Linked DNA regions of Homo sapiens: region 1 is linked to region 2. The links come from fine-mapping of genetic effects on gene expression. A gene starts in region 2. The other region holds a variant in brackets. All regions are shown on one strand. Distances are between the middles of the regions. Region 1 overlaps SPMIP2 (sperm microtubule inner protein 2). Region 2 holds the start of RAPGEF2 (Rap guanine nucleotide exchange factor 2).

Region 1 (16,100 bases), 170 kb after region 2:
GAATAAGTAGAAGCAGATCAACTCAGACACAGCATGGAAGAAGCAGCTCCCTTAATGGGGAAGATGATGAGTTCAGGTGGATTCCAGGTTTCTGTGGGATCACCAGTGACAAGTAGAGGTAGATGTATGAAGCTGGATGGAAATACTGTGCTGAAGAGCTCTTTCTGCCATCATTTTTAGGTTGTATTTGAAAATGTGTGAGTGGATGAGAAGGGAAAAGACCACAGGAATAAGGGCAGAATTGTAGGAAATTCAAACTCTGATTGTAAAAAGAAGAGCCATGAAAGAAGATACAGCAGAAGCAGAGGAGACCCTGGGGGGCTGAGGTTCACCGTGAAATAAGACGTCAAATAAGAAATAAGATGTCTACTTTCTTCAGTAGACAGCCAGTCTGTCTCACCAAGACAGAGACTTGGTGAGAAGAGAACAACTAGAACAATTTAGGGGAAGAGGGAGGGGAAGGCAAAGAGGGATGGGTGGGAGGTATGAATGGGAGGTGAAGTGGAATAAACCAAAACATGCCATGGTTTTTGAAAAATTTGGATAAGGAAGAAAATGTGGCCAGGTGCGTTGGCTCACACCTGTAATCCCAGCACTTTGGGAGGCCAAGGTGGTTGCATCACAAGGTCAGGGGATTGAGACCATCCTGGCCAACATGGTGAAACCCTGTCTCTACTAAAAATACAAAAATTAGCCAGGCATGGTGGCGGGCGCCTGTAGTCCCAGCTACTTGGGAGGCTGAGGCAGAACAATCACTTGAACCCAGGAGGTGGAGGTTGCGGTGAGCCGAGATCACACCACTGCACTCCAGCCTGGCGACAGAGCGAGACTGTCTCAAAAAAAAAAAAAAAAAAGAAAATGTCAATAGTAACTAGAGGCAGATGAAGGGCCAAGTGTAGGATTTTTTTAGGATTCAAGAAGCTTGATCTAGAGAAGGGCTTACTGCGTGGAGCACTGTTCTGGGGTCAGCAGTGATTCATTCCCAGAGACTAAAAAGGAGACAGGATTGGCTTGCATATGTAGGTAGGAATGCACTTATACATGTAAGTGTGGGGTATGGGGTTATGGTGGTAGTTGATGAAGTTTAAACCTGAAGGCCTTGTTCTCCATGGAGTCTTCTTTTTTGGCTATTAAAAAAAATGGTGGTAAAAGATATATAACAAATTTTACTGTTTTAATCATTTTAATTGTATAATTCAGTGGTCTATGAAGTCTTGTAAAAAAATTCTGTCCTATAGAGAACTGATGAGAGTGATGGGAATGAGAAGTGAGCAGGGGTCTTGAGGAAACAAAGAAGGCCCACTTGAAGTTAGAGGCCAGGTGTTTGTATCAGCAAGGTTATCCAATTGTTCTGTAAAAGAGTTAAGCCACCATGATATAGGATCCAAGAAAAATTGGAATTGGGGCAACTGGCTAACCTTTTGGAAAAAGTAAAATTATAGCTATACCTCATAGCATGTAATAAAATTAATTCCAGATGAACTAAGCAATTAACTGCTTTAAAGGCCTGATATTAAAACACAGAATAAAATATACAGAAACATTTATATTATGTTTATAGAGTCTGAGGGTACAAAAGGCAGACTGCAGCGGTAAGCATTAAGTTGATGTTTTGTATGTTATCACTTTATATTTAAATGTTGACTCAAACTTATGTTTCTTAAGAGCAGCTCATGTTTATTCTTTGTAATTCTAATTCAATTTTCAAACAGCATCACTAATGTTTTTTATTCCATCAAACTATGGACAAGTATAGTACCAAGAAAATAAAACGTAATTCCTGCCCTAAAAGAGCTTATCATCTGGTTGGTGGGGAGAATACATAAATAGGTAATTTTACCTGAGTATATTAGGATGCAGTGATAGAAATTTTGAGTTAACCAACATTTAGGGATTACCTATTTGTTTTTTGTTTTGTTTTGTTTCTTTGTTTTTTGAGACAGAGTCTTGCTCTGTGGTCCAGGCTGGAGTGCAGTGGTGCAATCTTGGCTCACTGCAACCTCCACCTCCCGGGTTCAAGTGACTCTCGTGCCTCAGCTTCTCAAGTAGCTGGGATTACAGGCACCTCCCCACCACCACCATGCCTGGCTAATTTTTGAATTTTTAGTAGAGATGGGGTTTCATCATGTTAGCCAGGCTGGTTTCGAACTCCTGACCCTCAAGTGATCCGCCTGCCTTGGCCTCCCAAAGTGCTGGGATTACAGGTGTGAGCCACAGTGTCCAGCCAGGATTACCTATTTGTGCTGATACAATGCTCGATGCTGGGTTTGGATACTTAACACAGTTTAACAACTGAGTGCAAAGCCTGTTAACATCAGGGAGGATTTTAGAGGGTGCAGTGGAAACACATATCCGGAAGCCTAACTTCGAACAGGGATCAGGAAGGCTCAATAAGTTCACCTGAGCTTGAAGTGTTGGTAGGAGTTAGCTTCTAGAAGTGCTGGACTTAGATTCCAAGATGCTGCTATTTTAGAAATGGAACGTCACACATTCAGATGAATTACCTTGGAGCACAATTACCACACATTTGACAATAAAAACTTTTCATTTCTAGCTTCTACAGCAATATGTAAAGATGGCAGGGTTTATGCAGTATGCTGTGGCTTGTTTCTGTCTAGCAGCCTAAAGGCTAACTCATTAAAATTCAAGGATGAATTACATGGTGGGTGGCAGAACAAATGTTTTCTTCACTGAGCAGAGCTAGGATCTTCAAGACAGTTTCTACCAGAACCAAAGTCACTCTTTGCAGCTGTTCGGTAAGACATGATTCAAGTATCACCTCCTCCAAATCTACCAGAACACCACCATCTCTTAATCTGCATTAGAACCATATGGTAATGACAGCAACAAGAAAAAAAAAATAGAGCAATGCTGGTTCCACCCTTGATTTTTCTTTGGAACCAGGTACATTTCTTACCTAGTTATAAATTAATTTAAATATTACTTTCTTTAAAAAGCCACATGTTTCTAGTTGATAGTTTAATTCACAGAGTAGAGTTATTCCAAGAGATTTAAAGCACAATAATTTGAGCAGAAATCTCCTTTCTGTTTTCTGAGACAGGATCTTCCTCTGTCACCCAGCCTAGAGTACAGTGATGTGATCATAGCTCACAGCAGCCTTGAACTCCTGGGCTCAAACAATCCTCTTGCCACAGCCTCCCAAGTAGCTGAGATTACAGGGAGGTACCACCACAGCCAGCTAATTTTTAAAATTTTTTTGTAGATACAGAGTCTCTTTATGTTTCCCAGGCTTGTCTGGAACTCCTGGCCTCAAGCAATCCTCCTACCTCAACCACCCAGTGAGTATAAATCTCTAATGTGGTATATCCAGAGAACAAAAAGAACAGCAGAAAGCTTGGTTGAGGCATTCATAGTGTTACTCAGATTCTGTTGTGGGTATATTGTGGGATAAATGATCAATCATATAATGTTCTTATTCAATCATTCCTGGTTTGATTGAGTACCAGCATTCTTGGAGTGGGAGAGAGAAAACACAGATGTTAACATAAAATACCTGAAAAACAAACCCTGAATTTGACTGGAAGATTATATATGTCTATTTGTCTATCTGTACGTGTGCATTTGCATTTTTTTTTCTGGCGCTATTCTCTGTAAAGGCCTAGACATAGAGATCAACTCAGTAGCTGTGATGTCTCCTAGTACTTAGATTCTTCAAATACCTTTCCTCCTAAAAGAAATTGGTGCTTCTTGAAGAAATGGCTGATTCTGGATCTGGAGAAGGAAATGAAAAAGATGAACCTAGAACATCTTGCCATATCAGGTAGCAAGAAAGCCATCAGAGACTACTGCAGTCCTGTCTAAGGGACTTAGGAGCCAAACTTGGAGAGATTTTTGCTGGCCAAAAAAACTGGACAACTTGAACAATAAGGGCAATAGCTGCAATGGATCAATATACATCATACATACATATCCACATATGTATCCATGAACATTCACAAGTCCATACTGTCACTTTAGGAAAAACACAACAAACTGGTTACATTATTTTAAAACCAACTCATTATTTTGAAAACGGTAAATAAGAGGAAAGAAACATTAATTCCACCTTTGCAATATGTTAGTGCATAACCAAATAGAAAATAAAATGACTTCAAAAAGAATCAAGGTTATTCAGCTAAAAAAAAAAAAAAAAGAAGGAACAACAGAATTAGGACATCACCACTTTGGAAACCCTGATGAATCAATGAATCTAGGGACTGAAAATCCAGGGCTGCCAAAACCACAAAAAGAGTGACGCTGAGATATTTAGTGCATCTTGGTGGAAAAACACACCACCACCCAAGATGAATTGTTTCCTTGGGTTGAATTGTTTCCTTCTCCAAGTTCATATGGTGAATTTCGAACTCCCACTACCTCAGAATGTGACTGTATATGGAGATAGGGCCTTTAAAGAGGTAATTAAGTTAAAATGAGGTCATTGTGGTGGGCCCTAATCCCTCCTAATTGTGGGATCATAAGAAAAGGAAATTTGGACAAGTACAGAGGGAGAACCATGTAAAGACACAGGGAGAAGATGGCCATCTACAAGCCAAAGAGAGAGCCGTCAGGAGAAATCAACACTGCAGACTCCTTGATCTGGGACTTCTAGCCTCAAGAATTGTAAGAAAATTCATTTCTGTTGTTTAAGCCACCCTGTCTGTGATACTTGGTTATGGCAGCCCTAACAAACTAATACAGTAGTCTTGCCCCCTGAAAACCCAACCTGATGCAGATCAATCCTCTAAAGCCAACTGACAATGTATAGGAAATAAGATGACCTCGGAACATGCTAAATGACATCGTGGAGATGTTATCAGAAAAGTGTACTGTGAAAAATTTTATAGAATAAAGGATCCTTTTGTTTTTTTGTTTTTGAGACAGAGTCTTGCTCTGTCACCCAGGCTGGAGTGCAGTGGCACAATCTTGGCTCACGTCTCGAACTCCTGACCTCAGGTGATCCACTCATCTCGGCCTCCGAAAGTTCTGGGATTACAGGTGTGAGCCACCACACCCGGCCCCAGTTTTTTTCAACAAATAAGAGGAGAAGAGGGAGAAGAAAGAGAAGAGAAGCAAAGAGATGAGAGAGAACCTATGAATTAAAAGAAAGTTAACCAATTGCAAGGTGTGGGACTTACTTGGATTGTCCTAACAGACAAACTGTTAAAAATTCCTAACATGACACAAATCAGACTTTTGAATACTGAATATTTGGTCAAAATTTTTAAATTTTTAGGAGAAATGTATGTTAAGAAAGAATTTTCATATTTTCGAGAGTCATATCAAAAGATATTATGGGGTGGTGTGGAGATTAGTAAGTAGGATAGAGATGAAATAAGATTGTCTATAAATTGATATTTTTTGAAGTTGAATGATTAGTTCTATGGATCTTTATACTATTTTGTCTTTTTTGTGTATATTTAAAATTTGCAAAGTAACTAAAATAAGTTGGATCAACTTTATTCTTAGTTAATACATGTCAAGATTTACCATCTGGATAGATAAACTTATCCAAAACTAAACTGAGTCAATACTGCTATAGTCTCCCAAAGAACCTTCACTCCAATTGCTACCGATCAGCTCACAGAAACACTGTCCTCCTTCCTTCCCTGTGTTGCCCTCTGATGTATAAATTAGCAAGTGATGCTGAGGAAGCACCAGCGTGAAGAGAAACTGGACTTGGTTTAGTTTCAGAAGCCCCAAACTGTTGGAATTGGAAGACCTTCCTGAATGTCTTATAAAATCTCCCACCTCTCTGGGAACACCGGGAATTATATTCAACACTTCTAATAGATGACCCTAGATGATCTAATAGGCCACATTTCTGGTAAGATTTTGGACAGCTGCCTCTGAGGCTGTGTGCAGGAGAAAACCTGATGTGCTCATTACTCCATATAAATCATTTAAAAATACTGAATGAAAATCAATAAACACTGTGTATTTTTACATCATGGACAAACTCTTGGCAACAGTAACCTTTTGCAGTATGTTGTTCTGCCCAGGAAGACAACATGCTTGATTTAGAGTGCATGACTGGTGTAACTAGAAGCCCAGCTGGAGCCCATAAGGGCAACCAGCAATGTCCTGGTGACGTCACTATGGCAAGGATGGCATTTTTCACATTCTGGAGCTTGGGGAAGGCAATCTGGCAAATTAGCGAGTAAGTGTTCACTTAGCATAATGTGAGACCTTTCTTGTTTCAATTAATTCTTTAGAATAGTGGTAGAATATTTAACAAGCCCTTCAAGTAGAGTGGTTGTATTCCTATGAAATCAAAGCAATAAATCAAACCAAAACAGTCACAACCTGAGGTTCGAAGCATATGGTGCATGTAATTTGGCTGAACTGCATAATCTTTTTGATGCTTCCCTTATAGAGGAGAGCCCTAGAGAGTGGGCTTTTCCTTCTTAAAGGAAAAATAAATATGTTTACACTTTGTTACCTCTTTCTGCCTTTTAAAAATGGCATTTAAGCAATATTCATCTGTCTGAAATAGGTACACTGGCAATTTGGGATGACGTCTCTTGTGCTTTCTTAAATACTTCTTCGGGGAGCGATTTCATTTTGATCCCCAGACAGCATGGGTATCATACTAATGTGGGATCATCCAATTTTGTTTAGAAATTTAAATAATTCTTACCATTTTTGCAAAATAGTTTTGTCCATAGATACGCAGACCCATTTCATAAATTCATGTTTGAATTGTTAATGATGTAAAACAGATCATAAACATTTTTGCTGTCTTGGGAGGGAGGAAACTCCTAAGCAAGAATAAAAGATTTAAGCTGGTATAAAAAATTATCTTTCATATTTCATCATGAACAACTGATTATCCTTGGAATTTATTGTCATCAAATAACCTCTTAGTACCCATTTCACTCATGCACAGGTATAGCCGTAAATCAGTTATTGTTTATGCATATACTAATGTTTGTGCCTTTTGCCATGAGTCTATATTACATAGACTGTTCACTTTCTTTGTGGGTTCCCAGAGGACCTCATACATGGCTGAACACATAGTCAGTGTGTGCTCAGTAAACTCTGCCCAAGACAATGTCTAAAGACAGAAGAAACAGATGGAAAGATTCTGGATCCTTAAGGCTGCTAAGTGCCTCAAATTGTCTTGATTAAACAGTTGGATGTTACTTTGGACCTTTATTTTAAACAGGATGCCACCACTCAGAAGTAGAACCTCGATTTTCCCAGCATCCTGAAGACTGCACATAAAACAAGTAAGCATGACCCATGCCTTCTAGATAAATCTCTATAAGCTCCTGTGGATTTTGATCGCTAAAATTTTGCTTCTTTTTATAAACCCCTTTCGGTTGCACTTACCAAGAACCTCCCAGGCAACAATTATCCTTGGGTAAACTCCATTAACGTTTAAATTTTTCTCTATTAATAATTGCTAAATATGGTTGTCTAGTCATTCGTTCATCCAAATACAAAATATAAAGATAACTTCCTGTTTTGAATCATCTCCATGACAACTGTTGATCCAGTATCAAATAAGTGTTCTCCCAGAGGATTAAGATGAAATGTTTTGCAAACAAGATACAACATTATCATGAATGATTCTATGGCGGCAGGGAGAAAAGGAAGATTAATGTCTGAGAAATAAGGTTGGATCAGCTCAATGATGATACGTCTAAAACGGACCTGTAGCATTGGTTTCCCCCGTTCCTCCTTTGTGGTATTACCCCTTCAAGATATGCTCTCTCGAGAAGGGGTGGGTGATCATGCCTTATAGTACCTCTCCTAGCTGTGTGCACTGTTAGCCTAACCTCCAGTTTTGGAATAAAAAGGAGCAGAGAAGGACAAAAGGGAGTGTTTTCTCAGGCAGCCAGTGTCACTGAAATACCACATATGTCTGTGTCAGCAGTAACACCCACCCCACCTATGTGGAAAGCCAATGTAGCGAGGAAAATATGATTAAATACATCTTTAAAGCCCTAATTGTGATTCCTTGGAAGATTCTGTAGGTGTGGACTACACCATCACACACAAAAAAGATCTTTAAAGAGCAGAGGTCTTGTTTTCCTGTGAATCTTCCAAAGGGAAAATAACAGGGAAAGAAGGCTTGTTCTCCCAGAAAGCACAGATCCTGCCAAATGGTTTCTAAATGTGTTTCTCAAAAATTTCCATGTGCCATCAATGGCTTTTTAGTACTTTTGGAAATGGAAAGAGCAGAAATCGGTACCACTGTGAGAAAGCAAACATTGAAGGAAACCAGCTTGTTGAGGAAACAGGTCGTGCTTTTAAGTCACGGCACAGATATGGCACCGGTCCTCTTCACAAGTTTGAAATACATGAATACACAGAGTTACA[T/C]CACGTTCTGATGCTGCAAGGAAAATGTTGAAGTCCTAAAGGGAAGTTTCCACATTATTTCTCTATGTGAAACTCAAGTGAATGACTGTTTCTGCGGTTTATATTAGGCAACTAGACTGACTCCCTGGAACTCAAACAAACAGTGATTTTCTTTCTTTAATTTTGGAATCCAAAAAGACATTAATTTTGCCACTTATTAGAATTATTTTTAGTCAACCAGAGAATCTCCAGAAGGTGTGGGTCAGAATGCCAAAGAGAAGAATATAAGGTTTGTTTCTGGGCAAGACTGAAGCTGGGTGGTCAGTTATCCAGAATAACCATCTGTTTTGATCCATTTAAGTCAACATGTTTATTCAAGCTCCTTATTTTGCCAAAATACTGAGAGTTCATTGAATTGTTTGGTCGTGAATCAAAATGGCTGACATGGATGCTACTGTGGGCCCAGCTCAAGTCACAAAAAGGTGGAAGACCAAAGACCCAGCTCAGCAGCAGCCCCGGCGGGTCCCTTCTTCAGCCCTCTGGAGTGTTTTCTCTGGCTAAAGTGTCAAAATTAAAGTGGAGTTTGTCCTATTGGTTTTAGACATTATATAAGTAAGGCACAGCCAGTCCTTTCCTCACTGAAGGCTGAAGCCTATTTTATCTTCTTACCCCATTTCCCAGACGTTCAGGCCGCTAGGAGAATCTTGGTCATTTCTCAAATAACCAACAATGTTTAAGGAAAATTTAAATATGTTTTGTTATTTAAAATCAGTTCTACCACACTCCAAACCCTTTATCGTTGTGCAGTCACAATTTCCGTCACCAGAGACAGACACTTTTTTTTTGTATCATTAGAGAAACAAGCACAATTGACTGAAAATGTGATCTATGTCAGGAATTCGGCTAGATGCTGAAGACACAAAGACGTAAGGAATGAATCCTTCCCTTTATCACAGATTTACTGAGGGAAGGAGTCAACATGACTACCCCAAGTGTCGTGGGTATGAACAATGGTCTGTGGGGAAGACAGGAGGGAATCATTGTGTCCCAGTGTTGCAGGTGGGTAGACACTGAGGCATGCTTTGTAGGAGAGGTAACACTTGAGCTGCATTTTCAAGGCTGTGTGGGAAATTAAAAGAAGAGTGTGGAGGTGGAGGCAGGAAAGGAATTCCAGCCATATGGGATTGCATAAGCCAAAGCATGGAAGGGTGAACCATCATGATGTCTTAAGGGAATGACTGGTTGTCTGGTATGGCGAAAACACAGGGTATTGTTTTAAAAGTTTGGTGGGAAGCAAAGATGGAATTGCAGTATAGGGAAAAAGATTGCATAGTGTTTTAAACTCCACACTAAAGATTTTGTGCTTAATTCTAATAGGCAATGACCTGTTCTTTTAAATTCTTTAAGGAAGTGATATAATCAAATCCATGTGTTAGAAAGAATACCTGATATATAATAGGTATAGAAAACTGTTTGCTGAATGAATGGAGCTGAGGAAGGAGAGACCGAGGGAGACAAGTTACGTGATATTGCAATAATCCTGATGATGGGAGCCTGAATTAGAGAGCTGGGGGTGGTGAGATAGCTTAAAGAAAGACACAATGAGACTTGGCAACCAACTAAATGTGGAGGGATGGAGGAGAAGTAAAAATGAAAGCTAATTCTGATATGTCTCTCTTGGGTGGCAGAGTATATGGTTATATCATTGACCAAAATAGGGAACACAAGAAGGAGAGAGTATTTTGAGGGGTGACAGGTGGGTAGGGAAAGCAGAGAGATGGGAAGATAAGTTGAGAGGCAGCATTCTATAATAATAATAATACGGCTAACACGTATAAATTTTTACTATGGGTCAGATACCATTTTAAATGCTTTATAAGTATTAACTCATTTAACCCTCATAAGTAGTATTACATTATTGTTCCTATTTTATTTTATTTTATTTTTGAGACTGAGTCTGGCTCTGTCACCCACGCTGGAGTGCAGTGGCACGATCTTGGCTCACTGCAACCTCCACCTCCTGGGTTCAAGCAATTCTTATGCCTCAGCCTCCCGAGTAGCTGGGGTTATAGGCATCCACCACCACGCCCAGCTAACCTTTTGTATTTTTAGTAGAGATGGGGTTTCACCTGTTTGGCCAGGCTTGTCTCAAACTTCTGACCTCAAGTGATCCACCTGTCTAGGCCTCCCAAAGTGCTGGGATTACGGGTGTGAGCCACCACACCTGACCTGTTCCTATTTTATAGATGAGATAATTGCATAGGTTTGGAAGGCAACAACTCTGAGTTCAAGTCCTAGCTTTTCTGCTTTTTAGCAGTCTGATCTTGAGTATGTAAAAAATGGGTAATAATACCTATTATAAGAAATTATTAGAAAGATGAGAGATAATACATATAAACCAACTGGCATAGTGTCTGTAACCTCATATGTCTCAATACGTACTAGAAAGTATTACCAGCTATGAGATGTCCAGTAAAAAGTCAGGCATTTGTGTCTAGATTGTAAGAACTGAAAGTAAAAAATTTAAACATCAATATGTTGATGTTGGTTTGATTCTTGGATATAAATACTATTCCCTGGCCTGGAGGTGAGTGGCAGTGTACAAAGAGATAAGAATTGAGGGTAGAATTCTAGAAAATACCAATGGTAAAGGAACAGAAAGAATAAAAGATTCTTCCAAAAGAAATATAGATGAAATAATATTAGAGGTAGAAGGAGAGACATAAAAAAGTTTTGCAAGTCCAAGAGGAAAGGGTTTCTAAGAAGGCAATGTCAACAATCACAGATGCTTCTGAGAAGCCATATATGAAAGTCTGAAAAGAGATGATTTTATCTGACAGAAAAGAGCTTGCTGTTGGCTGGGGTAAGAACCATTACAATGAAGTAATGGCAACCCAAGGCACAACTTCAGCATATGGAGGAGGGGCAAATGAAGAAGTGGAAACAAAAGGAAAAGGCAATTTTTCCTTTAAATAGTGAGTCTCTGTTTCATTTCACAATGATACAGTTTGGAAAGCACTTCAGGAATGGTGAACTAAGGACCTCCAAAAATATGCTCCTCTAAAAAAGAAACAAGAACACTGGCAAAAATCATCAAAATCACCTTTTTGAAAACACTGGAGGCACGTTTTCACATTTGCAATCCCAGCACTTTGGGAGGCCAAGGCAGGCGGATCACTTGAGGTCAGGAGTTTAAGACCAACATGGTGAAACACTGTCTCTACTAAAAATACAAAAATTAGCAGGGCGTGGTAGTGTGTGCCTGTAATCCCAGCTACTTGGGAGGCTGAGGCAGGAGAATCGCTTGAACCCAGAAGATGGAGGTTGCAGTGAGCCGAGATTGCGCCATTGCACTCCAGACTGGGTGACAGAGCGAGACTCTGTAATTAACAAATAAATAAATAAAGTATAAACAAGAAACCACTGGGAATAAACCAAATGCTTGCAGCAATTCTTGGAGCATTCATTTGAGAAACATGGCTGAATCTTTGTAATAACAATGATTTTTGTGCCATTTGAAATTGTACTATTCCCATTCCTCTCTTCCTAGCTCCATGGCAGCCTTGAAAACCAACAGCCTCACATCCATGGAAACTATGAACATCAGCAGCTTACCAGTCACTGGAAGTTGAACACAGATTTGAAGCTCTTTGAGAAGCCCTGTACCCAAAGAAATGTCATTTTTGACTTGTCTTGAAATCCCCTGAAAAGCTTCATTCTCAGGGCTTGTTTTTGTTTGACCTGACTCTCTGTGTGCTCTACCCCATGGACATTTGCCAAAAGCAAAAAATTAAGACACCCAAAGAAATGAGAAATGGCCCATACACAAGGTGAAAAAAACAGTCGATAGAAACTATCTCCAAGGAAACTGAAACATTGGATTTACCAGACAAAAACTATATTTTTATTTATTCTGTATGTATGTATGTATGTATGTTTTGACACAGAGTCTCACTCTGTCACCCAGGCTGAAGAGCAGTGGTACGATCTTGGCTCACTGCAACCTCTGCCTCCTGGGTTCAAGCAATTCTCCTGCCTCAGCTGATCCCTAAGTAGCTGGGATTACAGGTTCCCACCTCTATGCCTGGCTAACTTTTGTATTTTTCATAGAGATGGGGTTTTGCCATGTTGGTCAGGCTGGTGTCTAATTTCTGACCTCAAGTGATCCACCCGGCTTTGACATACAATTCTTGAAATTGTTTAGTGTTAAGAATTTTAATTGTCTTCCTTAAAAGAACACTGCATAAACAGATGTATTATTTATTTACGCAAAGAAAAACAAATTGTACCCGGTATTTCTACCTGAAGCCAGGCTGGTCTTGAACTCCTGGCCTCAATCTATCCACCCACCTCAGCCTCCCAAAGTGCTGGAATTACAGGTGTGAGCCACCATGCTCGGCTCAGACAAAGACTTTAAATCAGCTGTTATAAATATGTTCAAAGCACTAAAGGAAATTGTATCTAAAGAGTTAAAGTATGAGAATAATGTTTTATCAAGCAGAGGGTATCAATAAAAAGATAGCAATTATTTTAAAAATTCTGGAGTTGCTGGATGCAGTGGCTCACACCTGTAATACCAGCACTTTGGGAGGCCAAGGTGGGCAGATCACTTGAGGTCAAGAGTTTGAGACCAGCCTGGCCAACATGGTGAAACCCCATCCCTACTGAAAATACAAATGTTAGCTGGGTGTGCTGGCATGCACCTGTAGTCTCAGCTACTTGGGAGACTGAGGTACAAGAATCACCTGAGTCTGGGAGGTGGAGGTTGTGGTGAGATTGTACCACAGCTCTCCAGCCTGGGCAAAAGAGCCAGACCCTGTCTCAATAATAATAATGATGATGATAATTTCTGGGCTGGGCATGGTGGCTCATGCCTATTATCCCAGTACTTTGGGAGACCGAGGCAGGTGGATCACCTGAGGTCAAGAGTTCAAGACCAGCCTGGCCAACATCATGAAACCGCGTCTCTACTAAAATTACAAAATTACAAAAATTAGCTGGGCATAGTGACAGTGCCTCTAGTCCCAGCTGCTTGGGAGGCTGAGGCACAAGAATTGCTTGAACCCAGGAGGCAGAGGTTGCAGTGAGCCGAGATCATGCCACTGCATTCCAGCCTGGGTGACAGAATGAGACCACATCTAAAAATAAAATTCTGGAGTTGAGAAGTATAATAAAAAATAAAGAATTTACTAAAATTTACTAGAGGAGCTCAAGAGTAGATTTGTGCTGTCAAAAAGTAATCAGTGAACTTGAATATAGATCAATTGAGATTATCCACTCTGACAGAAAAGAAAAAAAAAATGAAGAAAAATGAACAGAGCCTCTGAGACTGTGGGACACCATCAAGTGTGCCAACATAGCAAAATGGTAATCCCAGAAGTAAATGAGAGAGACAAGGGAAGAAAGAATATATGAAGAAATAATAGCCAAAACTTCCCACATTTGATGAAAAACAGTAATCTATATATTCAAGAGGTTTAACAAACTCTGAGTAAGATAAGCTCAAAGATTCATCACAGTCAAACTGTTAAAAGGTAAAGACAGAGAATCTGGAGAGTAGAAAATGAAAAATGACTATCATATACAACAGATCCTTAGTAAAGGCTGGGCACAGTGACTCATGACTCTAATCCCAGTGTTTTGGGAGGCCAACACAGAAAGATTGCTTGAGGCCAGGCCTGGCCAGGAGTTTGAGAACAGCCTGGGCAATGTAGTCAGATCTCATCTCTATCCAAATAAAAATAAAAAATTTAGCTGGGCATGGTAGTGCATGCCTGTAGTCCTAAATTCTCAGGAGGCTGAGACAGAAGGATCACTGGAGTCCAGGAGTTCAAAGCTGCAGTGAGCTCTGATCCCACCACTACACTCCTGGGTGACAGAATCTCTTAAAAAAAAAAAAAAGCCAGGCATTACAGGCTCATGCCTGTAATCGCAGCACTTTGGGAGGCTGATATGGGTGGATCCCTTGAGCCCAGGAGTTTGAGACCAGCCTGGCAACATGATGAAATCCTGTCTCTATAAGAAATACAAAAAATAGGCAAAGTCGTGTGCACCTGTAGTCCCAGCAACTTGGGAGGCTGTGGTGGGGAGGATTGCTTGAGCTTGGAAAGTCGAGGCTTCACTGAGCTGTGATTGTACCACTGCACTCCAGCCTAGGTGATAGAGCAAGACTCTTTCAACTCAGAGCGAGTGAGAGAGAGAGAGAGAGAGAGAGAGACTGAGATCCTCAATAAGATTAACATGAATTATCAGCAGAAACCATGGAAGCCAGAAGGCAGGAGGATGACATATTCAAAGTGCTAAAAGACAGACTGTCAGCCAAGAATTCTATGTATGCAGAAATTTGTAGTATGCAGGAATACTATGCTTTTATGCCTCGAAAATGAAAGAGAAAGTAAGATATTCTCAGATATACAAAAATTGAGAATTTTTTTCACTAGCAGACCTGCCCTGCAAGAAATGCTAAAGAGAATATTTCAGGCTAAAATGAAAGGACCATACACATGAACTCAAATCCACATGAAGAAATAAAGGGCACTGGTAACTACATAGGTATATTATAAAGTCAGTATTAATATATTTTTGATTTGTAACTTCTCTTTTCTCCTATGTGATTTAAAAGATAACTGCATAAAACAATAATTATAGAATTATATTGATAGGCATATAATTTAGAAAAATGTAATTTGTCTAAAACTAATAGCACAAAGGAGGAAGGAGGAAATGGAGTTATACTGAAGCAAAGTTTTTCATATGATGGAAATTAAGTTGGTATTAATCCTAACTAGATTATTTTGAAATAAGATATTAATGATAATCCCCAGACCAGCCACTAAGAAAGTAACTCAAAAATGCATACTAAAAGATACAACAAGGGAATTAAAATAGTGTACTATTTAAATGAAATGCAAGGCTAAAATGATAGAAAATATCTACCACAAAAGCAAGCATGAAGAAATAGAGAAACAAAAAATATTTAAGACTTATAGAAAACAAATAGCAAAATAACAGACATAAATCCTACCAAATCAATGACTATGACCACATTAAATGTAAATGGACTAAACAATCCAATCAAATGCCAGAGATTGTGCTGGGTATGTTGGCTTATGCCTGTAATCCCAACACTTTGAGAGGCCAAGGCAGGAAGACTGCTTGGGGCCAGGAGCGTGGGACCAGCCTGGGCAATAGAGCAAGGCCCCATCTCTACAAAAAGAATTTTTTTAAGTAACCACGCATGATGACATGCACCTGTAGTCCTAACTACTCAGGAGGTTGAGGTGGGAGGATCACTTGAGCCCAGGAAGTTGAGGCTGCAGTTAGCCAAGATCATACTGTGTCCGGAATTGGTGGGTTCTTTGTCTCACTGACTTCAAGAATGAAGCCACGGACGCTCGGACGCTCGCAGTGAGTGTTACAGCTCTTAAGGTGGCGCGTCTGGAGTTTGTTCCTTCTGATGTTCTGATGCGTTCAGAGTTTCTTCCTTCCGGTGGGATCGTGGTCTCGCTGGCTCAGGAGTGAAGCTGCAGCCCTTCGCGGTGACTGTTAACAGCTCTTAAAGCAGCACGTCTGGTGTTGTTTGTTCCTCCCGGTGGGCTCGTGGTCTCGCTGGCTTCAGGAGTGAAGCCGCAGACCTTAGCGGTGTTACAGCTCATAAAAGCAGCGTGGACCCAAAGACTGAGCAGTAGCAAGATTTATTGCAAAAAGCAAAAGAACAAAGCTTCCACTGTGTGGAAGGGTACCCGAGCGGGTTGCCACTGCTGGCTCTGGCAGCCTGCATTTATTTTCTTATCTGG
Region 2 (16,100 bases):
ATGACAAAGTTATAGAAATGGAACAGATTAGTGATCCCCAGAGGTGGGGTGGGGGAGTGACTGTGGCTATAAAAGTCCAACAAGAACCATTTGTGGTGCTGGAATTGCTTTGTTTCTTGATTGCACTGATGTCAATATCCTGATTGTGATATTACACTACAGTTTTATAAGCTATTACTAATGGGAGAAACCGGTTAAAGGGTACACACAGGATCTCTCCCCATTATTTCCTACAATTGTATGTGAATCTACATTTATCTTAAGCTAAAAAGTTTAAGAAAGATAATGATTCCACTGAAGACTGGTCATTAAAAAATAAAATACATTTTAAAAGATAATGAGTCTTAACTCTAGAATGAATTTTCAGGAGAAATCAGATAATCACCATAGTACCATAAACCTCTCAGATCCACTGATTGTTGGCTTCTAAGAAAGTTACTATCAGACCTCCCCAGAATGACCTAATGATTAATTCTCGTTCAGTGTTCTCTACCTTTCTTCTCCGTTTTTATGTTGGGTGAAAACAAATACCATGAGCTAGAGAAGAACAGAAAGGTGCCAAGGGGCAGATATTACACTGTGTCGGTTTGTCAACTAAACTGCAAATGGCAGCGAAATGTACATTTTTATTCACTTATTTTAATTCTAAAGCTCCACAGTCCATTATTTTCAACCTGTGGAAGGCAAGCAATGAGAAACAACAGCCAGCGGAAGACAAGTTTAGTTCCAATGACAAAACAAAGTTCCTCTTCAAGTCACTGACACTAACTCTCCCAAAACACTTCTTATACATAATGGATATGAAAGCACAGAAGAGGTGGAGCCAGGACAACTTAAAATCCAAGGACCAAGTTGTTTCCTCCACAAAAACCAATAAACCCACCACCACCGCACCAAGGGTAAATTCTTTCACAGACTGGAGGGAAAAAGGAAACAGCTGAATACAGCAAGAAACACACGCTTCTTAAAATTCAGTAGGTAGTGGCGATTTTGCATGTGAAAACAAGGGTGGTTTTTTTTTTTCCTGAAAAGATAAAAATTCTAGAAGTCAAAATAATGCGGCAATAAACTTATTTTTCTTCCTACAATGACTGACATAATCACTTGAACATAGTTTTAACTATATAAATACATAAATATATATTCTAGCTCTGATAAAGTTACAAGATCAATTATATGTACTACAGATTGCTTCTCCTAATTTACCAACATCAATTAATTTATCTAAACAAAAAATGGTATAAAGGAGTAAAAAACTGTTCTCAAAGACTCAATGCCATCATTACATTGTGTCGTCACAAGTCAATTTTGAGTTTTTATATAAATAAGTTCATTTTTGCCTGCTTAAATTCAGAAGTTCTCCAACTCTTCCAAATGATGAAATGCTTGGAAATCACATTATCATTACAGATTAAGAAATATATTTAGTACAACTACATGATGGTGTTTTGGGTTTTGTTTTTTTGAGATGGGGTTTCGCTCTTGTTACCCAGGCTGGAGTGCAATGGCACAATCTCGGCTCACTGCAACCTCTGCCTCCAGGGTTCAAGTGATTCTCCTGTCTCAGTCTCCCCGAGTAGCTGGGAATACAGGCACCTGGCTAATTTTTTGTATTTTTAGTAGAGATAGGGTTTCACTATGTTGGCCAGGCTGGTGTTGAACTCCTGACCTCAAGTGATCCACCCGCCTCAGCCTCCTAAAGTGCTAGGATTAGAGGCATGAGCCACAGCACCTGGCCTAGTTTAACTATATGATTAACCAGATATTTCAAACTAGATTCCCAGAATGTACATGTAGTAGAAGACATTAATGTTTAAGGGAAAAAAATAGTGTGAGAAACCTTAAAAATCAAGAAAACTATATTCAACAACTTGGATTTTTTCCTATGAACTATGAAATATCCATGATCATCCTGTGCCATAATTAGGCTGCACTGGTATGATTCAAACACAGTTTTACTATAATGAGATATAAAACGTGCACACATTCAGCCAGCCTGTCCAGCAGATTCTACTCCTGCAATATTTCTAATCCATCACCACTGTGTAATTCAGCTTCCCAGCCATCTCAAGCCAGGAAAATGAACATCAGTCTTTAACAGAACTCTTGGTCTCCTCACTACCCTCACAAACCATGAGCTTCTAAATGCCAGTAATCATTCCTTACCCCCTCCTCAGTCCCCTGGTTCCCAGCACACTGAACAAAGAGCTGCACATGTTGTCTTACCAGGTGTGCTACTCATATGACAGTAGGTCAATCTGGAATACCACTTCAGGTCCACTAGTTCACTGGTAGGTGAATTCTTACTCCCCTACAACTCAATACATATTCATCTAGGAAGTCCACATCCTCTTCAGTGCTGTCATAGGATAGCTGTTACAGCACTCATGAATTACAATCTACTTATAACAATAGATTAGTGAGTTACTTGAGGGACACACATTTCATCTTTGAATTCCCAAGGCCTGTTAAATAATAGAAATTGTATAAAATATGCTATAAAGAGGACTAACATTAGGCATTACACTAAATAATGTACTTTCACTTAATCCACAAAACCTCAGACAGCTATTATCCATTTTACCGACGAGGAAATTGTTACCAAAAATGGAGTGAAGAGAAGGAATACCCCATAAAATACGGATTATCAAGGACCAACGATTTTCAGTGGTTTCCATATCTCCTAAGTCTAAATCAAATTTACCTTTCTTTTAAATAGAAACGGGGCCTTGCTATGATGCCCAGGCTGGTCTTGAACACCTGGGCTTCAAGAGATCCTCCCACCTCAGCCTCCCAAAGTGCTGGGATTACAGGTATGTGTCACCACTCCTGGCCAAAGTTACTTCCATATAAAATTTACAAAGAAGGAATACTTTTTTTCTCATTAAGTTTTCATATGAATCAAGCAAAATCAGAGTTTTTATTTCTAGAAGGTTATCATATCATTATTTCGGATAGTCCATTTATATCTGAGGCGCATCCCATTATAATTTTATGCAACTTGAATTTCAAATTATCACCAATGGACCAGGTGCAGTGGTTCACACCTGTAATCCCAGCACTTTGGGAGGCTGAAGCAGGAGGATCACTTCTGCCCAGGACTTCATGACCAGTCTAGGCAACAAAGCGAGACCCTCATCTCTACAAAAAATTTTTTAAATTAGCCAGGCACAGTGACATAAGCCTGTAGACCCAGTTACTCGAGGCTGACGCAGGAGGATCATTTGAGTCTGGGAGATAGAGGCTGCAGTGAGCCCGGGCAACAAAGCAAGACCCTATTCCAAATATATATATCTCGCTCTCTTACCAAACATTGTCTATCGCCATACCATCCTGAAAGCACCCCATCTCATCAAATATCACCAAAGAAAGACCTTATTGTGATTCTTTAAATCATCCAAAATCTACCCAAATAAGTTTTTTTCAGGTCCAAAGTAAAATTTAAATGAAAAAATGCAGTGAATTTTCTTATGACGCAAACAATATTTTCTTTCAAAACTGAGCTTTAGAATAACACTGCATCCTTCCTTTCTTAAAAACAGTGAGATTAAATGATAGTGATAAGAAGTTATAACTAGTTTTGTTTTTATTTTATGTTCCTTCTTGAGAGAAAAACCAAGGTGGTCATCTTCTCCTTAAAAAAAAAAAAAAAAAAAAAAAGAAAGTTCTGTGAAATTCCAGCATTTGGGAATGACTGCGACTGCATTAAACGAGTATCTGCATAAAGCACTGCAGTTGGAGAGATTTTCATTTTGAACCTTAGCCAAGATATGCAAAGCTAATTATGGAACTGTTAATTACTAAATGTTTAAAGGGTTATTTGAAGGCGACTAAGGTTCTATCAATATTGCAAGGAATGTTAATATTTTTATCATAAATTTAATTCCTCATTTGTTCAAAGTCACATACCAATAGAGTTTGAAGCTAATATTTCAGTTATAAATGTATTTCTGTACCAAGAAATTCAAATGTCATTGTTATGAAATCTAACTGCTTGTGGCCAATCATTTCTTTATGAGACATGCTTTTTAAATGGCATACAGATAGTTTAGTTGTATTCTATGAACAAAAACTATTTAAGAAACAAATATTACTAGAGCCCCAAAATGGGCTAAAATATAATGAGAGTATAAGCTGACAAATATGAGTCTGCTTATAAGCAATGGTAAAAAGAAACTCAAATGGAAAATTTAACTATAACAGACACAATTCTTCCATTAGATTTGAAAGTTAAATATTTGTCAGAGATATTCTTTCATGCCGTTTCTCATAATTTACAGTTCTCTGAGCTAAAGTTACTTTTTTCAGCCCTCTCATTATGACTCACGATGAATTCTACCAAGTACTTAGCAATGAATTAAGTCCTGTATTCTTTATAACACATCAATGAGTTAGTACTTATATCAAAAGTTGTAATAGCCCAAAAAAAAGTAAGATTATTAAATAGGAGGAGATGGGGTGGGGGTTATTTTACACATAACATTTTTAACAGTAACTTTTACAACTAGCTAAAAATGCATTACATTAGGTCTTTAAAGAGAAGAAACAGTTTTGCAATAGATGTTTCACCTGAAAAACTGAAAATGGTATGCATTTAGACACTCTACAGAAGCAATTTCAAAGGGCCTGAACTCAACAAGTTAACAAAATGGTTTAGAAAAACCATTTTATTGTATAAGCCTTGGGGGATAAAAGCTGTTTGTAATTTATTTACATCTTTTACTTCACCAAATTGCCTTGGTGACCAAGCTTCTCATTTAAGTGATTAAAGACATAAACCCAAATGGTTAAATAAAGCAATTACTTAAGAGTCCTGTTTTTCAACAGAGGTGCACTGAAAAATATCAGTAGAATGTTTTCAGGGCTCATTATTTTCAAGGAAGTTTGTTATTTAGAATACAATGCCCCATTGACTAGAACTCAGCCAGGTTTCCAGACACACAATATGGGACACACATTGGATTAGAGTTTTCCTCCTCCTCTCACAATATCAGGTGAAATAGTGATAGTCTCTTGAAACTGAGTATGTATAACCTGGCTAAAACTTAGATGATAATTTTTTTGGTATTTCTCCTTACTATTCCCCCTCTCTAAAGATATAACTGAAATGCGTTTCCATTGTGCAGGTGGACATGAAAAGCTCCCAATTTATGAAAGTTCCTGGTACTCTTCCCACCCCTAGATTCTCTTCTAGCCAACTTCTTAGGTTACACCAATGACATCAGGATTACTTCTAGGCAATTGATTGACCTAAATACAAAACTATGTTTTCACGGAGCTTGGGAAATGAATGAGGCCAGCAAGCCTTTAAAAAACAAACAGAAATGAACAGCAGGAAAAAAAATTACATATGTTCCCCAATTCTTTTCCTTTTGCCTATAACGAGAATCATGCAAACTCCTTTATCGAGTCTATCCTCAGAAACAGAAGGAAGCAAAACAGCAAAACTTTCCTAATTCCTGTCCTTCTGTTCATGATATCAAGCTTATTTAACATGGTTGCTTTTCTAATATTATAAAATTCGAACTCACAAACATTTATAAGACAAGGCTGTATGGAAAATCTTCCAGCGTTCCATTAACAAAGCATTCTTAACATAAAAAGTACCTTCTACAAAAACTTTTTTTTTTATAATTTTTGAGTAAATTTCAAATTTTTATAAGATTACTCCTGGCCAGTCAGGTAAAGATGGAAAACGTTCACATTTCGAACAACTTTCTCTTGAAAAGAAATAAACGTGGGGATTTGTAGTAATAACCAAACGAACATCAAAGTTAATAGGGCTGACACTTAGGAATGTTTGAAATGTTTGGTAGGTTTCCTTATGTTTACTTTTTCTATGAAGGTTTGGTAGGGCAAATGGGCTGCCTTCCGACTGTCAATAAAGCTTTCATGTCGTGGGTTAGTAGTAGCTGGCCCAGGCCAAGTTCTGTGTTGGGTCAGTTTTTACTCTATTCTACACAACTGGCAGGGGAACAGGAAAGTTTAACAGTTCATTTATTTGGCACAGTGGGCCCACAGTCACAGTGGAGGTTTTGTCTCTTCTAGTCTTGTTTGGTGACCCGCCCCCCAACCTGATAGTAGGTTTTAGTCATTGTTATTCTTCTAACTAATCAACCAAATGCACCACTTCCCCCTTCTCTAATTTCCACCAAAGGCCTCTGACATCATTTTCTGACCAGCCTTGCTAGGTTCTAATATTCTCAGCATGCGTAATTTCACTTGGCACTTAAAACAATATTCTTGAAAGGAAATGAAATATCTCACTGAAATCTGCTTTTCCTTCACACTGAGACAGGGAATGTGCATTTTCAGATGCAGAAGACTGATCCAACTGACCATTTTAAAACAAATAGATGAGAAAGGCATAGGAAAGGCAGCGTGTGCAACACCAAGAGAAGAACAAGATCAATGCAGGACATTCCTTGTTGGGATAAAAATAGTCTTTTAGAATGGGAACTTTCTGGAGACAGATAAATTTTCTTGTAAAATTACAGCCATCTTCCACACGTTTGATAAATATGTGCAATCTATCCATGATCTCCCAGATGTGACAGCTCCATCAAGGAAAATGAAAAATCAAAAACGGTACCAGGTGCCACTCTTGGGGCTTGTCCAAAGGCAGCCAGGGGAAGAGTCTATTTTATTATGCTCTCCCCACAGTAAATAATAATCAACATCAGAGAAGGAGAGCATTTGGATTTGAACAGATGGCATCCAACATCTAACAAGCGAAGCAACACTTTCAAGCATTAGATCCTAAATGTCTGATGGTCCCAAGGATCAGGAGGGCTTATTTGTCTTAAGAGGGTTGGCAGGCAGGATCTCCTATAGTCACCATCCCAACGCTTAGGAATATGCGTCATTATCCAGTCAGCAACTAAAGGCGGAGAAAATTAAGCTACCACATTTTTATAAAATTTCCCCCTCTCCAGTAAAACTTGAGACAACCAAATCCAACCCTATCAGCCGCTATAAGTAAGAGAAGAGTAAGCCTGCAGGTAAACAAATGTATAAAGGTTAACAAACTTATCTAATTTTGACAAGGTTGTGCAACACCAAAAGAATCCGCAGGGTGCCCTTCCCGAGGGTGTACTGGAACATGCCTGCTCTGCAGCTATGTCTGCAATTTAAACTAAAAGCACTAACTTAGCTATTCAACTTTTTTTCCCTTCAATTGAAAGCAGTATCCTTTAAAAAATAAAAGCAAAACAGTAAACATACAAACACCTCAATGTTTTACTGAAGGTCAGCATGGATTTGTCTTTAGCACAACCGTACAGGTTTCCTCCTATACCTTTCAAACACCACTGAACTCCAAGGGTCACTTGCAAGGGGAGGAACGGATCTGGAGTCAGAGGGAGCAAGAGTCGCTGCCCGAGGGGAGATGAGACTCCATCCCCTGAGATTCAGAGGCCACGGAGGGCGGCTGGGGAGAGGGAAAGCTAGAGAATTCACACATTCACACACATACACACACACACACACACTCTCTCTCTCTCTCTCTCTGTCTCTCCCTCTCTCTCTCTCTCTCTCTCTCTCTCTCTCTCTCTCGGCTGGGCAACATAGTGGGAAAGGTCAGTCATGGGGAGGGAAGAGTTAAGGAGCAGAATGTCAAGGAGAGGGAAAAATAAAACCAGGATAGGCGGAGTAAAAGACTCGGAGGTGGGATGCCTTTGGAAGTTGGGGGTCCTGATGCAAGAAGTGGGGTGCTCGGGGCGAACTGTGTCAGGAAGGAGGTGGGGGGACAGGGGAAGACGCAGCCTGCGAGGCAGAAATCCGGCCAAGGGCAGGCGGCCGCCGCGTTCTCACCTGGGGGGTCCTTTCGGGGGGATTCTTCATCACCGCCTGGCGGAAGCTGTTATCTACGTAGGACGCCATCTCCCCTCTGGGAGCGGGCCGGGGCCGCTCCGCACCCTGGCCGGCCTCCTCCCGGCCCAGCGCCGCTGCTGCCTCCGCCCTGCGCGCTGCGCCCGCCCGCCCGCCCGCGACTAATCAGCCAAACCGCGGCGGCGGCGGCGCGGGGCCCGCGGGGGGGCGGCTCGGCTGGGCCCGGCGGCCGAGAGCGCGGTACAGGCGCGAGGGGCTGGACGCAGCCGGGAGGGTCGCGGCGCCCCTAGGCTGCCGTGCGATGCGGCCCGCAGGCGGAACTCCCCTTCCTCCTCCTCCTCCTCTTCCTCGCCGCTCCGCCGGCTTCCTCCGGCCCTGGCTCGACACGCCTCCCCGGCTCCACTCGGGGGACAGTGGCGGCTCCTCCTGGCCCCAGCGGGCCCGAGTTATTTTTAGGGAGGTACGAGTGGCAGTGGGGAGGGCTGTGGGCAGGCGGAGCCTCCTCCCCCACGGCGCTGAGGGTCGCCCCCTCCTCTCAGGGGCTTGCGCAGCCGCCGCCCAGGGGTCTCCGAGAATCACTTGGATCTTCCGCGTCCCCAGTCCTCGGGCGCCTCGGCCGCCGGTCGGGAGGACGGACCAGGTGGGTCTGGCTCAGGTCCGGGCGCTGCGAAGCCCGATCGCCTCGGCCGCCGCTCCTGGTCTCTGTCTACTGGGCTCGGCCGTCCCTCCCGACTGCTGCTGCATCCCCTCGGGCCGCCCAGCCGCCGCCGCCGCCGCCTCTGCTGCTCGGGCCGCCGCTGTGGGCTCCGCCGCCGCCGCCTCCCCCCATCAGCGCGCCCGGAGCGGAGCTGCCCCGGCGCCGGCGCCGCCGCGGCCAGAGCACCCGGCCCGGGCTGCAGCCCTCCGGCCCAGTCGCTCTCGGCAACTTTGTTCCTCGTCTGCGCGGGGCGGAGGAGGGGGAAGAGGGGGCCGCGGACAGCCCGGGTTCGGACTCCCGGCGCGGGCGTCCGAGGGCCGAAAGCCGAGAGCCGCGCACAGCCCCCTCGGAGAGAGTGTTTGGGAAGCGGCGATTCCCCTCCTCTTCCTCCGCCTCTTCCTCCTCCTGCGCCTTCTCCGGCCGCCGGAGCCGCTCCTCAGGGAGGAAGCGGCCTCTGGGGCTTGTTGCTTTGTGCTGCAACCATGGTGAGGAATGAGTGACAGCGTGGGGGCGAGTCGGCGGCCGCCGCATCATCGGGGGGCGGGGCAGCCCCGTCGCGCCGGGTCCCGCCTCCCCGCTCCCCGCCCGCCAGCGGCCGCGCCCTCGCGTCTGAGCGGCACCTTCGGCGGCGCCCAGGTGAGCAGCGCTCTGGCCGCAAGTGGGTCGCGGAGCCCTCGGCCGGGCTGTCGGGTCCCGCGCGCGGCCTGGACCCGAAGAGGGGGCGCAAGTCCTGGTGCCCCGGAGAGAAGCGCAGGGCTTTCCTCACGCAGTGTCCCCCACTGTCTCACGCCGCGCCCCCTCCCCACACCCGACGCGCCCTACTAGGAGACCCAGCCGCGTCGGGTCGCTGCTCCCCGCCCGCTCCTGGCGCCACGCCGCCGCCCAGGGGCTGAAAGCTAACCTTGGGCAAAAGACCGGCCCACCAGCCCGGGCTGTACTGGGCATTCTTTTTGAGCCCAAGAGTTGCGTCCGAGTTGCTTCTGTGGCGATAAATCCTCTTAGGATTTATTTTGCTTATTTGTAATTTGCTGCACCCTCCCCTGCTTTCCAAGCCCACTCTGGCACCTCAGACAGTAAAATGACCACGAAATTAGGCAGAGAGGTTTCAACACCAGACCCACTACCACCCCTAGACCAACAAACACTCCAGATTTAAAGTTGATCACTCCTTAGCGACAGACCAGGATGGCAAGTTCTGTGACATAATCAGAAACATTTATTGGTAGGTCTGGCTTTGCCTTGGACAGAACAAGCCTCCTCCTCTAGATGCTCAAATTTCCAAACCGGACCCACATGGTGCAGAAACAATACCTCGTCCTTCAAGATGTCACCGCTCCTGCTGATTCCCTCAGCTCCCCCCCACTCCTTGCCCCGGCCACGTAGAGGTGTGTTAAGGTCAGCCCAAGCATCGGGGACCACTCTGCTGTTCTGGTCCCAGGGATTTATTTTTGTTTGCCCCCACCCCCCACAAGTTCTTATTTTGATATCTATAGACACAATGAGTTTTATGTATGAGCTACTGCGTTGAACTTTTCAAACATGATTTTCAACATCTAGTTTAAACACTTGGAATAGATTGTCAGCTAACATTTTGGGGTTCCTTAAGTCACCTGTGTGCACTAAACAGCTTGTGTGACTTCCTAGCAAAGGGACTGTCCCTGCCCAACCTTGTGAAAGGGAATCTGAGTTACAAATTGTATCTGTAGACCTTTTTATATTACTCTTGCTGGAACTGCTTCTCTATATTTCTCTTTCACCTCTTAGTTGAGCGCCAACATCAAATTCTCTATGACATAGGCCACTACCTTGAAAGCAAAGGAACATGAATAAGTGCCAATACAGCTCTGAAAAAAGGAGAGAGGCAGATAAAAGAATTCAAACCCAATGAAGTGAAAAAATATAACTGACATCTCCACCTGGTGTCTAATAGACATCTCAGAATTCACATGTGCAAACCAGGCTCCAGATCTCCTGTCTCAGACACCCACAGCCTTCCCCATCCTCTGTTAATCACATCTACACCATTCTCACTTCCTGGGTGAAAACGTTGACTTCCTTGACTCCTTTCTTTCTGTTATACCTCAAAAGTGTCAGTAAAAATCGTCAGCTCAACCTCCAGAATGCCATATCTGAACTCTAACCTTTATCTACCACTTCTACTGCCATGACCCTGGTGCAATCCAGCATCATGTCTGGCCAGCACTTTGTCATAACCACCCACCTGGTCCCCCTCTTTCTAACCTTGCTTGCCATACAGTTCATTTCCAACACAGCAGCCAAAGTGTGAATTCTTTTCACTCCTTCTCAAATCATTCCTCTGCTTAGCTCCTCATACCACTCAAGGTAAAAGCCAAAGTCTTACCATGGCCTGAATATCCTATGGACCTTTATCTCTCTGACCTCTTCTACTATTCTGTTCCCAAGCACATTAGCCTCCATGTTGTTTCTGAAACAGCAAATTCCAGTCTCATGACCTTTCCATCTGCTGTTCCCTCTACTGCCTGGATTATCTCTCCCCCTCTCCCCACCCCACTTGCACCCACAAAAACAAAAAACAAAAAGAAAAATGCACACACACAACAACCAAAATATAGAATGTTGTTCCTCATTGTCATCATATCTTCATTTGAATGTCACCTTCCCTGTAACTCCATACACTCTGGTTATCTTCGTCGCTTTACTTACCACCTAACATACTGTATATTGTACAGGTGCTTGCCCACTTAGGATGGGGTTACATCCTGAGAAACCATTGTAAGTCGCAAATATTGTAAGTCAGAAATGCATTTAATACCCTGATAAACCCATTATAAAGTGGAAAAATCGAAAGTCAATTTATTGACCATCGTAAATTGAGAACCATCTATACTTATTTATTTTATTTATTGTTTTATCCCTCCACTGTAATGTAAGCTTCTAAGTCAGGGATGTTTGTCCCTTTTATTTACTGCTATATCCTCAACACAAGACAGGCAGCCAACAAATAGGTATTAAATGGATACATGAAGTAGTTCATGTTACCTTGTATTTGTATGAGATTTTTACATACATTATCTCACTTGTGTCCCTGGTTGCGGGGAGAAAACTGGGAGAGGAAACTTAACCTCTCTGAGCCTGTTTTCTGTTTTATAAAAAGAGAGTACAAATTGAATAGTCTGGCCAGGCAAAGTGGCTTACACCTGTAATCCCAGCACTTTGGGAGGCTGAACCAGGAGGATAGCTTGAGGCCAGGAGTTCAAGACCAGCCTGGTCAACATAGCAAGACCACTGGCTGCACAAAAACTTAAAAAAAAAAAAGGAGCGGGGCATGGTGGGGTGCACTTGCAGTCCTAGCTACTCAGGAGGCTGAGGTGGGAGGTTATCTTGAGCCCCGGAGTTCAAGGTTGCAGTGAGCTATGATCACACCATGGCACTCCAGCCTGGGTAACAGAGCAAGACCCTGTCACAAAAAAAGAAAAAGTTGCATACCCTGAAGATTTGTGACGATCCAAGATAATACATGCAAAGTGCCTTGCATAGTGGTTTAACAACAGTATATACTCAATAAATGGTAGTTATATTTAAGATTATTCTCATCATTGCAACTCTCTGAGGCTAGTGGGACAGTGTTATCTTATTTACAGATGAAGAACTGACACTAAAATAGGCTACATGACTTGTCCTAGTTCCCGGACTGCCTTTAACTTTAGAAAGTTCTGGAGCCAGCTAACAAATGGGGATCCATATACTCTATCATAAATACTAAAAGCTACAAATTAACTGGGGGAGTACTGAGTACTACTGCAGGGAGTACTGGTATCTGGTCTGCAACTGGAATCCCCTTTTCTTTCCATCTCAGCTTCATCCTATCCCATGGAAAGGCTCACACATAAGAGGACAACCCAGCTAGTGCGGTGGCTCATGCCTGTACTAATTCCAGTACTTTGGGAGGCCGAGGTGGGCAGATCGCGAGGTCAGGAGTTCCAGACCAGCCTGACCAATATGGTGAAACCCTGTCTCCACTAAAAATACAAGAATTAGCCTGGCGTGGTGGCGTGTGCCTATAGTCCCAGTTATTCAGGAGGCTGAGGCAGAAAATTTGCTTTTACCTGGGAGGTGGAGGTTGCTTGCAGTTAGCTGAGATCAAGCCACTGCACTCCAGCCTGGGTGACAGAGTGAGACTCCATCTCAAAAAAAAAAAAAAAAGGACAAGGACAACCCAGCCTACACATCTAAGTGATATCACACCCCTCAAAAAAGCCACCCCTTGGTGATTCCTCGGGCCAGGGGCCAGCCTTGGAAGATGAGGTCTGGAAGTGGCAAGGCAGTCAGGACCAGGGTTCCAGGTGCTCAGAGAGTATGGAACTCCTTGCCCCATGGGGAGGGGGGATGCTAGAGGGGACCTTCTACACCAGACAGGAATGCCTCTCTGCCAGATCTCACAGCAAGAGTTAGGAATTCCAGTTGCACACCCAAGTCTTTTTTCTCTGTGTGCTCTACTGTAACACTGAATTACATCAATCACCTCAGGTAAGACATAATAGTATGTCTTATCCACCAACAAAATGACTAACTCACTGTCAACTTCTAAGCTATCATTTAACTTCAATTAAAGCTAATTTTCACACTATGTATAACCTACTTATCTACATATGTCAATAATGCATATCACCACTCAGCATCTAGGACATCAGATACTTGGCATGCATTGCTGTTTTATTAACATTTGAGCACCAGTAATGTGCTAGGCACAACCTGGAAGACAGAATTAGACAAAGATCTGCCACTCTGCCAATTAGTCTAAACCAAACTGTGTCAGCAAACCATAATCAAAGTAAGCTATCTATTATGCTGCCTCATAAAGGCAAGTGTAAAAATGAGAGTTTCTTTGTTCTGTTTCTACTACCATCATATTATCTAGAAAATCACTGGGGGATGGGAAGAGAGACAGAGCACTGGGTTTTAAGTTCAGAAATACTTTTCAAGTTCTGGCCTTAATACCATTCTACTTGTAACTTAAAAAGCTTTGATCTTTCCAACTGTAAAATCTAATAGATCCCTAAATATATCGTGTGGGTTAGGCATTTAGGGTCATCTTTAAAAGTGAATTAAAATATTTGTTTTAAATTCCCGTGAGTCCAGCTATACCCAAGATTAGGGAGATTTTACATACATAGTCATTTTGTTTTAAAAACACGTCAAGCCCTTACTGCTCCATCAATAAATATTTATTGTGTGCTTTGCTGTGTGCCAGGTACTGATCTCCATGCCTGGAATACCAGTAATGAATAAGACAAATATGGCTCCTTCCCTGGCCTCCTGGGAGCTTGTTCCATGTGCCAAGCATTGGTTTAATTTACTCACCTCTCCTATAAGGAGGGTAAGGATAATAGAAAGGATCCAGGAAACTGCCCTCCTCTGCTAAGAGCTTCCTCTCCTTACTGCTTTCTCCAGTGGTTACAACCCTCTCAAGGCAAGATTTCCAGCTGAGAGAAGTTGGATTCTGTTAAAGACATTCCTCACACCACTCCCCTTTCCCTAGAAACATTTTTTTAAGCGTTGGTTTGCAATTACTTTTACCCTTGTAGTCAAGTCAGTAAGAATCTCAGGAGGGTGGAAGGGTGTTGTTTACACATTGTGTCATTCTCAGTGAGCACACTCCACTAGGAAATATTGTGTTCACCTACAAGTAGCATTCCAGAGAGTCCCTGATGGGGAGTACAATTACAGACATTCAGGGAGAGATACAGTGAGTTTATAGGATGGATCTCATGATGAAATGTATCAGAAGCACAGGTAGAGTATCAGACTATTCATTTTGATTGTACAGGAATCATAACATTCAGAGTTGAGGATGCTGCCGCAGAACTACACTAACATAGAGGTCAGGTAGATGTTTAGATATTTTGGAACTGATTCAGAAAAAGGAAACCATCTCCCCCTGATTTATCAATATTATTACCTAGGTTCTGTCTGGACATAATATTAAATAAAAATAAAAAATATACACACTAACGAAACTGTTCTATTCAGTTACACTATTGTATCCCTCACACTGACATAACTACTTTCTTTCATTGATTTGTTTGCACTTGAAATATAGGGCCAGTGGCAGAGAACAACCTTTGTATTTCCCTTATTGTGAGAAAGCTGATGCTGACATTTCTAAAAGGAAATGCATTGTTAAACTTCTAATCTACCATCAATTCCTTCTATTGTTATGTAGTATTTGGCATTTATTTTTATAAATTGGCCCATGGGATGATGGTCCAGAATCATTTGGCCAGCTTTAAGGGGAGTAAAGGAGTTTAGGTAAGAGATACAGATTAAGTTTTTTGTTTTTTTTTAAGCCTAAAAGCAGGTAAAATTAAGAACTTTATTTTAAACTCTAACAATATAAATGCACTACATAATCCAAGAGTATTTAATGCATAGATTTTTTTAGAGCTTACACTAGATATCATGAATGCTCAAGTTAGTAAATCAAAGAGAAAAAAACCTCCCATTTCCAACATGCAAAGTTAACCCATTGAGATAATTCTGTCATAATAGAGCATTGTACAAGATGGTATCTGGGTTTTTCCCGTTCTGTTAAGGTGATTATACACAACTGAAATTACATCCATAAGCAAACCGGTGTGCAGTGCAGAATCTGTAAAAGTGTTCCAAAAAAGTAAAACAGCTACACTTGGTGCCAACTCTGTTCTCCAGGTAGTATTCAAGGGTAAATGTAAGTGTGCTATAGTACAGCTGTCGACCATAGCAGTGTCAAAATCAGAAAAGGTCATTTGAGAAAACAAAACAAAACAGTATTCTTGGCCAGCTATGATTTTTTAAATGCCAATACTAATAATCATTCTGAAGTCATGATTATTTAATATTTGGTAAACCCAAGACTAGTGCTAGGCACCATATGTACATAAACAAAGACAAAGTGCTTATGTGTTGAGCTTACAAATCTAAATTAGGCAAAGGAAGTGAAGGGCAAACAAGGGCATGGGAAACACACACTGAGGACCTGTTTAGAAAATGAGGCTTTTTTTTAATTGTTATTTTATTATTATTATTATTGTTATTTTTTGAGATGGAGTCTCGCTCTGTCGCCAGGCTGGAGTGCAGTGGCGCGATCTCGGCTCACTGCAACCTCTGGCTCCTGGGTTCAAGTGATTTTCCTGCCTCAGCCTCCTGAGTAGCTGGGACTACAGGCGCACACCACCACGCCCAGCTAATTTTTGTATTTTTAGTAGAGACAGGGCTTCACCATGTTGGCCAGGATGGTCTCGATCTCTTGACTTCATGATCCGCCTGCCTCAGCCTCCCAAAGTACTAGGATTACAGGCATGAGCCACCGCGCCCAGCCAGATTGTTATTTTTGTTTTAGCTATCAGAAAGTCCGTTATCTTGCAAAAAAAAAAAAAATTAAGGAGGAAAATCAAAGGAGAAAAGCATATTGTCTTTTTGGGAGTTTAAAGAGGAAGGCTTAAATATGAAATGGTGACATGTATCAAGTTAGAGACCTGAAGGAAGAAAGCACAAGTAAATGGCAAAAAGAGAAACTGTCAGCATTGGATGGAATACAATACAGGGACTAAGT

The links. PIP is the estimated chance that this variant, and not a neighbour inherited with it, causes the effect.
Region 1: its variant is fine-mapped to the expression of RAPGEF2 in whole blood (TOPMed, PIP above 0.99).

The regions. Positions count from the first base shown.
Region 1 is chr4:158,928,613-158,944,712 of GRCh38, reverse strand. All of the region lies in intron 3 of SPMIP2 (sperm microtubule inner protein 2), which reads left to right. Among named protein-coding and RNA genes, the nearest start is that of SPMIP2, 99 kb to the left of the region's middle. The variant T/C (reference allele first, on the strand shown) is at 8,326.
Region 2 is chr4:159,095,944-159,112,043 of GRCh38, reverse strand. RAPGEF2 (Rap guanine nucleotide exchange factor 2) reads right to left here and starts at 8,965. Exons shown (of 30, transcript NM_001394067.2): 1 at 7,813-8,965. The coding sequence starts at 7,881. RefSeq lists silencers at 7,826-8,245, 8,213-8,507, 8,256-8,545, 8,586-8,805, 8,936-9,475 and an enhancer at 9,124-9,815.